Regions from separate parts of the Homo sapiens genome. Here region 2 is reported to be linked to region 1. The links are microRNA targets in miRTarBase. Many come from high-throughput screens and were not tested one by one. Region 1 holds a microRNA gene; the other region holds the end of a gene's coding sequence.
What was found. Region 1 holds the annotated microRNA hsa-miR-5681b (AGGUAUUGCCACCCUUUCUAGU, at 1,482-1,503, shown strand). A microRNA usually pairs through its seed, bases 2 to 8, with sites in the 3' UTR of a target mRNA and lowers its output. Matches are read on the target gene's strand: a 7mer-m8 pairs with bases 2 to 8, a 7mer-A1 pairs with bases 2 to 7 and ends in A, and an 8mer does both.

Region 1 (3,124 bases):
CAAAGTACTATAATAAATAAAAGATATAGGAATCCCCAGAACTCACAATAAATTCTAATACCATTATCATAAAGATGATACCAAAAGTATTGTTTCTTATAATGTGTATATTCTCTCCTTTTATCATAATTACTAAAAATATTGTATTATAGATCCTTAGCCCATTACTTCCAGCAATACACTGTATATAATTTCCCAGATAATGTGCAAAGTGTTTTTTCACCCTTTTTCCAGAAGCATGGCGATAAATGTAATTAATACAAAATGTTTTAAAACAAATAACTTTTAAAAAAAATTACTTTAGGCCAGGTGCAATGGCTCACGCCTGTAATCCCAGCACTTTGGGAGGCCAAGGTGGGCAGATCACGAGGTCAGGAGATGGAGACCATCCTGGCTAACATGGTGAACCCCATCTCTATTAAAAATACAAAATATTAGCCAGGCGTGGTGGTGCACACCTGTAGTCCCAGCTACTTGGGAGTCTGAGGCAGGAGAATTGCTTAAACCCGGGAGGCAGCGGTTGCAGTGAGCCAAGATTGCACCACTGCACTCCAGCCTGGGTGACAGAGCAAGAGTCCACGTCAAAAAAAAAAAAAATTACTTTTACTACAAGCAAACCCTGAAGCATCCTGGACAGTCTTGACCTGTGAGATACCCTCTTACTTCCACAGTCATGGAAACTATGCATTTTCCAGATGGCATATAAGACCCGATACCTATGTTTTTCTAGAATCCCTTTGCAGTGGACTTTTCTTCTTCCTAAGGCCCATGGTGCGTGCATGGTCTCTAATGAACAGATGGCACTTGGTCCCTGGATGAGCTCTTGTACCTGCAAATCTTGAGAGCTTGGAGACAAGCAAGAAAATCATTTCAGACCCTCTCCTCCACTGTCAGCACCACTTCCCCACCCCTTTCACCTTGATCTGCTTGGTTTTGTGTTTTTGGGAAAACCCACTAGTTATTGGTCACTACCTGCTCACAAGTCAATGTAATGCTCCCCGTCTTGTTTCCATCTTGGTTTTCCTTTGTTTAAGAGGATGAAGCCACTTAGGACCCCTATATGAATGAGACTTGTTTGGTTGAAAGTTGACCCAAAGTAATAAGTGGTTTATTGTAAAGAGGAAAGAGGTCTATAAATAGAAAACCCTGGGGGACTGAGGCTGGCCTCAGGACCAGGGAATAGCAGAACACAAGTGTGCAAGTCAGAGAACTAGCCAAGAGTTTATAATCAAGCTTCTAAACAGGAAGTCTCAATTCAACTTCAAAAATTACTTTATAAAGAATTCAAGTGCCATGAAGGCATGTTTTAACTTGGCTTCTTTGGCTCAGAATAGTGTATATTGGTATCTCTAGTGGCTATCCCCTTCCCATTGTTAAAAACAACATGTGAAAAATCCTACAAAATAGGTAAAACACATTTTAAAGTGCCATTGACTGCTGAGGCAACTCACTTAATATCAACAAGTCTCAGTTTTTGGAAGAGGTATTGCCACCCTTTCTAGTCTAATAGGGACTAGAAAGGGTGGCAATACTCTTCAAAAACTTCACAAGGAAGTTGTAAGGAATATATGAGATCATCTATATAAAGCCCTTTGTGAACAATAAATCACGATAAACATAGACTTGTTGCATCTATCATATCACTTAGGGTTTTTTTTTTTTCTCTCACAGATTAAGGTAGTTCAAAAAGGAAGCCAGAATTTTCACTTTCTCTTTATTTCTGCTCCCAAAGAACCGTCAATTGCTTAAGGGATTGCTCCCAAAGAGCCTGGAGGTAGAGGACAGGAGGAGGCAGTTGTTTATTTAGTTTTTTGAAATGTTTCCAAGGAGAATGAAAACTAAAATTTGTGTGTGTCCTTTTTCATTTGCCTTCTGTCTAAATTGGAGTGTGGACAAAGGGCAGCCGCTTTGCTAGATGTGGACATTTGCTGAGCAGTATACTGTGCTCCAGTTGCAGGTGGATAGTGCCTAGCACTCCTCATTAGCTCATGGTTCTGCATCACATTCTTCAAAGAGCTGCTAAAGCACCCACACACCACCTGCCTGAGGGTGCAGCCAGGGCTGAGTGACATAGTGTGTGCCTCTCCTGCAGGTGCATTAATAAGGAGCCACAGGGGTTATAAGAGGCAGAGGGCTGAGAAGATGTTTCCTACAAATGGATCCGAAACACAGCCTGTTTGTATATGTGCAATTCATTGGCTTCTTGGAAACAATCCTTTGCCCAAAGTAACAGTTTATAATCGTGAAAATGTGACTAAACTTTAAAAGTACATGAGGAAAAGGACTATTTCTATTTTGCCGAGTCCAAGTTGGATTTGACTTTGGCCTTTCCATATCCCAAATGGTATCCACTGTTTTCAGCATTTTGGCCCTGAGAACAGCTGGTGAAGAAATTGATTGAGCTCAGAACAATCCTTCAGATGTCTAGAATAATCAACCACCTTCCATAATTTCAGTCTTACTAACTACGTGATATGGAGTGCACAGAAATCTGATTGACAACTCAATTAGTCCAAATTCCAGTTTGCTGCCATCCACACATCCACAATGTGCACACAAAGGTCAGCTAGTTTATAGAAGAGAAGAAGAAATGGGAGATTTATAATCGAAGGATTAAAGTCGATCACTAATGATCACTATTTAAACAAGGACCTGCTGTTACTTGTTAAACAAGGAAAGATTTGGAGGCTTCCATTTGTTAATGTCATTCAAACATCTGCTGTACACATTCTACCAATGGGCTATGAGCCACAGAACCCAATTGTGACTGCTGGGAACAGTCAATGGGGCTCAGTAAACTGCCTTGAGGAAATGGTCTGCCACAAACATCTGTAGTTATTCTTCAGCTGAAAGGCCAATATTTCCAGGGCAGCTGGGTCCCTCTAAGTCAGTGATTCATAGCTTCAGCTGCACCCTGCAATCACCTAGGAGCTTTAAAAAGTACTGATGTTCATCTCATCCCCAAGACCCCAGGAACTTCCATTTAATTGTTCTGGGGTGTGACCAGGCACACAGGTGATTCTGATTTTCAGTCTGGTTTGAGAATTCTTGGTCCAAACAGACAGGACTTGGTAGCTGGAAGATGTAACCACCAAGCCTCCCATATAATTTAATTAGCACGGCA
Region 2 (3,124 bases), not on the chromosome of region 1:
AAAGCCCCATTCAAACATCAGGGAGCGGTTAACTCTTCATTATTAATATTTAGGTTTCCTGTGTGGATATTATTATTTGCAAGAAGTGTTTAATCCTAATTTTAGTTTTTCCCCATCAGCCATTACATTTTTGAAGGGCCTCTCTTTCCCACAGGTCAGCGTTTATCTCAGTAATGGTAACTATTTATTACTTATTTTATTTTTTGAGACGGAGTCTCGCTCTGTCGCCCAGGCCGGAGTGCAGTGGCACAATCTTGGCTCACTGCAGGCTCCAACGGTAACTATTTAAATTTGTATTAATCTAAGAAAAAACACAAGAATAGGTTTGCTGCCTTTCAACCTCCTAACCAAAAGTCACAATGCATTCTGAAGCCATATATATATATATATATATATATATATATATATATATATACATGAGACAAATATGTATATTTGAGACAGGGTCTCACTCTGTTGTTCAGGCTGGAGTGCAGCGGCATGATCATTGCTCACTGCAGCCTTGACTTCCTGGGCTTAATAGATCCTCCCATCTCAGGCTCTTCAGTAGCTGGGACTACAGGCATACACCACCAAGCCCAGCTAATATGTGATTATTAAATTACCCTCTGCCTTAACTATTTATTGCTTTATGTTGTGAGTAATGAACAACTGCCGTTCAGGGTATCTGAGACATGAGACATTAGCCTCAGTCCCCACCTCTTAAGTTTCAAATGACTTCACCTTAAACATTCACCATCCTCCCACTTACAATATCTCTGGCCTACTCTGCCCTCAAGGTAGTTATGTTACAGAGAGTAACAACTCTGAATTCTTCAGGGCCCTGTAATAACATATGTCATCTTTAGCATCAGTTTGGGGAGTAATACACTTAATGTCCCAATTTGAAACATTTTCTGTCATCCCATTTCATTATATGCACTCACATGCCCCCCACAACAACAAAAAGGCACAGAACAAGAATCTAAACCTCTTCTTATCAACAGTGGGATACTTTTCATAATCACTATACACATTTATTTAGGAACAGTGAGATTCCTTTGAATCTCAACAGTTTCCTAGACATGTAGTCTTTTTTTTTTTAAGTTACCATTTCTGGAATGGCTTCATGTTACATCTCTACAAACTGGCCCACAAAAAAGCAGACTCTAGAGATAATGTTCCCAAAGAAGTCAACAAAGATTCCCAGCCCAGGCCAGGCGCGGTGGCTCACACCTGTAATCCCAGCACTTCGGGACGCTGAGGTGGGTGGATCAGGAGGTCAGGAGTTCAAGACCAGCCTGACCAACATGGTGAAACCCCATCTCTACTAAAAATACAAAAATTAGCTGGGCTAATTTTTGGTGGTGGGCGCCTGTAATCCCGCTACTTGAGAGGCTGAGGCAGGAGAATCGCTTGAACCCAAGTGGCAGAGCATGCAGTGAGCCAAGATCATGCCACTGCACTCCAGCCTGGGCTGGAGCAAGACTGTCTCAAAAAAAAAAAAAAAAAAGAAAAAGAAAAAAAAATCCCAGCCCATGTGGGAACTCTGGAAGGTAGCACAGTATTTCACACTTTGGTATTTCCCCCCCTTTTTTTTAAAGAAGATAAAATATTACAGAGACATTTTCAAAAATCACACCTGAGTTAAACATTTTGCTGGAAAATTCCACATTAAGGAGTTAAGAACATAATGCAAAAAATGGGAAAGGGCTATATACAGGTACTTTGCCACCATCATTGTTGTGTGTTTGCTCTTGTGTTCTTCCTTTTCTGCTGCCAGGAGAAAGGAGAGGGGACAGGATAAAGAGAAACACAGGGAGGAAGGGAAAGAACAAGCACTCCTGAGCCCTAGGCAGACGTGGACAGACAGAAGGGCACCAGCAGGCGTTGCAACATGCCCAGGGCACCCACCAAGGGCAGCTCTTTTACACCTTCTGCAAAAAGGAGGGGACCTGGAGGGCGCAATAATGAATGGATTTGATTGTAGAAAAGGGGGCGAGGTTAAAAAGAAAATGGGGTGAGATGAAGATTCCATCAGAAAACTTAGCTGTACAGAGAAAACATCAAGGCTTTGGTGGAGATATCAGATTCAAATCTTTTCACAGATTTTGGGATCAGTTCAGGGGTTGTGGCCAAGTTCAGAGTCAAAACTATTATCTCCCCTTCTGGTGTTTGGCACCCCAGCCAAATGGCTGTCCCCAGAAGCCCACGGATGAGTTGGAGAATAACAGCAAGAAGTCTTTTCTCTGAAAGACTATTGCCACAGTGAAGCTGGCTAAAATATTTGGAACTAGAAGGCAAGGGCATAGGCAAGGAAGGTGAAAATGGTAAGCTCCTAGGAGGGGCTGTGTATTTCAAGAGCATTAGGAGTCTGCACTTGGTTCAATCACAGTTTGGATCTCCGGAGGCCCTTGCTCTTGAAGAAGACAAGAGTCTGGGTTCATTGATAGTGGAGATTTTCTTCCACTCTTCTGAAGGCAATCTGTCTGTATATAGAAGGCATGATTCCCTTCCTTCCAGGGGGAATACAGGGCCAGCTGGAGTAGGAGAAACTTTTTGGTCTCAGTGGAGGTAGGTGGAATGATTCCATCGGTACCAAGATCTGGAAGGAAGAAAGAAGTCAATCCTAAAGCTAATAATGTGATGGCGTAAGATGGGAATGGGGAGTGACTGCTAGCAGGTACAGGGGCTTTTGCAGGTAGGAGTAATAAAAACATCCTGGAATTAGATAACGCTGATGGTTGCACAACCTTGTGAATATACTAAAAACCACTGAACTGCACACTTTAAAACGGTGAATTTTATGGTATATGAATTATACCTCGAAACAATTTTTTAAAGCTGGTAATGTATATTATATGGTCCTCTTTCTCTCTCTCAGTAGGGGTAGGTGAGGAGCGCCAACGTTTCGGGCTATGCAACAATTGGCCAATAAGAACTGGCTGCCTTGCTGAACCGCCTGGATTTGGACAGCTGGGTTCATCTTTTCTGACGAACTCAGGTCTGTAACCTACACATCTCTGTGTTGTTCTGAATCAGGGCAGAATCTCTCTTTCACAAGGCATCAGCTCTGAGAATACTTTTTAGAGTAGATTCTTTGCTTCATGAACTGAAGCCCAGGAGGCTGCCTGCCCCACTGCAT

Region 2: the mRNA of POU2F3 is a reported target of hsa-miR-5681b. Seed matches in the 3' UTR shown: 7mer-A1 at 1,557-1,563.

What each region holds. Positions count from the first base shown.
Region 1 is chr8:74,546,963-74,550,086 of GRCh38, reverse strand. MIR5681B (microRNA 5681b) reads left to right here and starts at 1,478; the gene lies at 1,478-1,537. It overlaps MIR5681A (microRNA 5681a), which reads right to left and starts at 1,544; the gene lies at 1,470-1,544.
Region 2 is chr11:120,317,813-120,320,936 of GRCh38, reverse strand. It overlaps POU2F3 (POU class 2 homeobox 3), which reads right to left. Exons shown (of 13, transcript NM_014352.4): 13 at 992-2,584. The coding sequence ends at 2,545. Among named protein-coding and RNA genes, the nearest start is that of TLCD5, 5.9 kb to the left of the region's middle.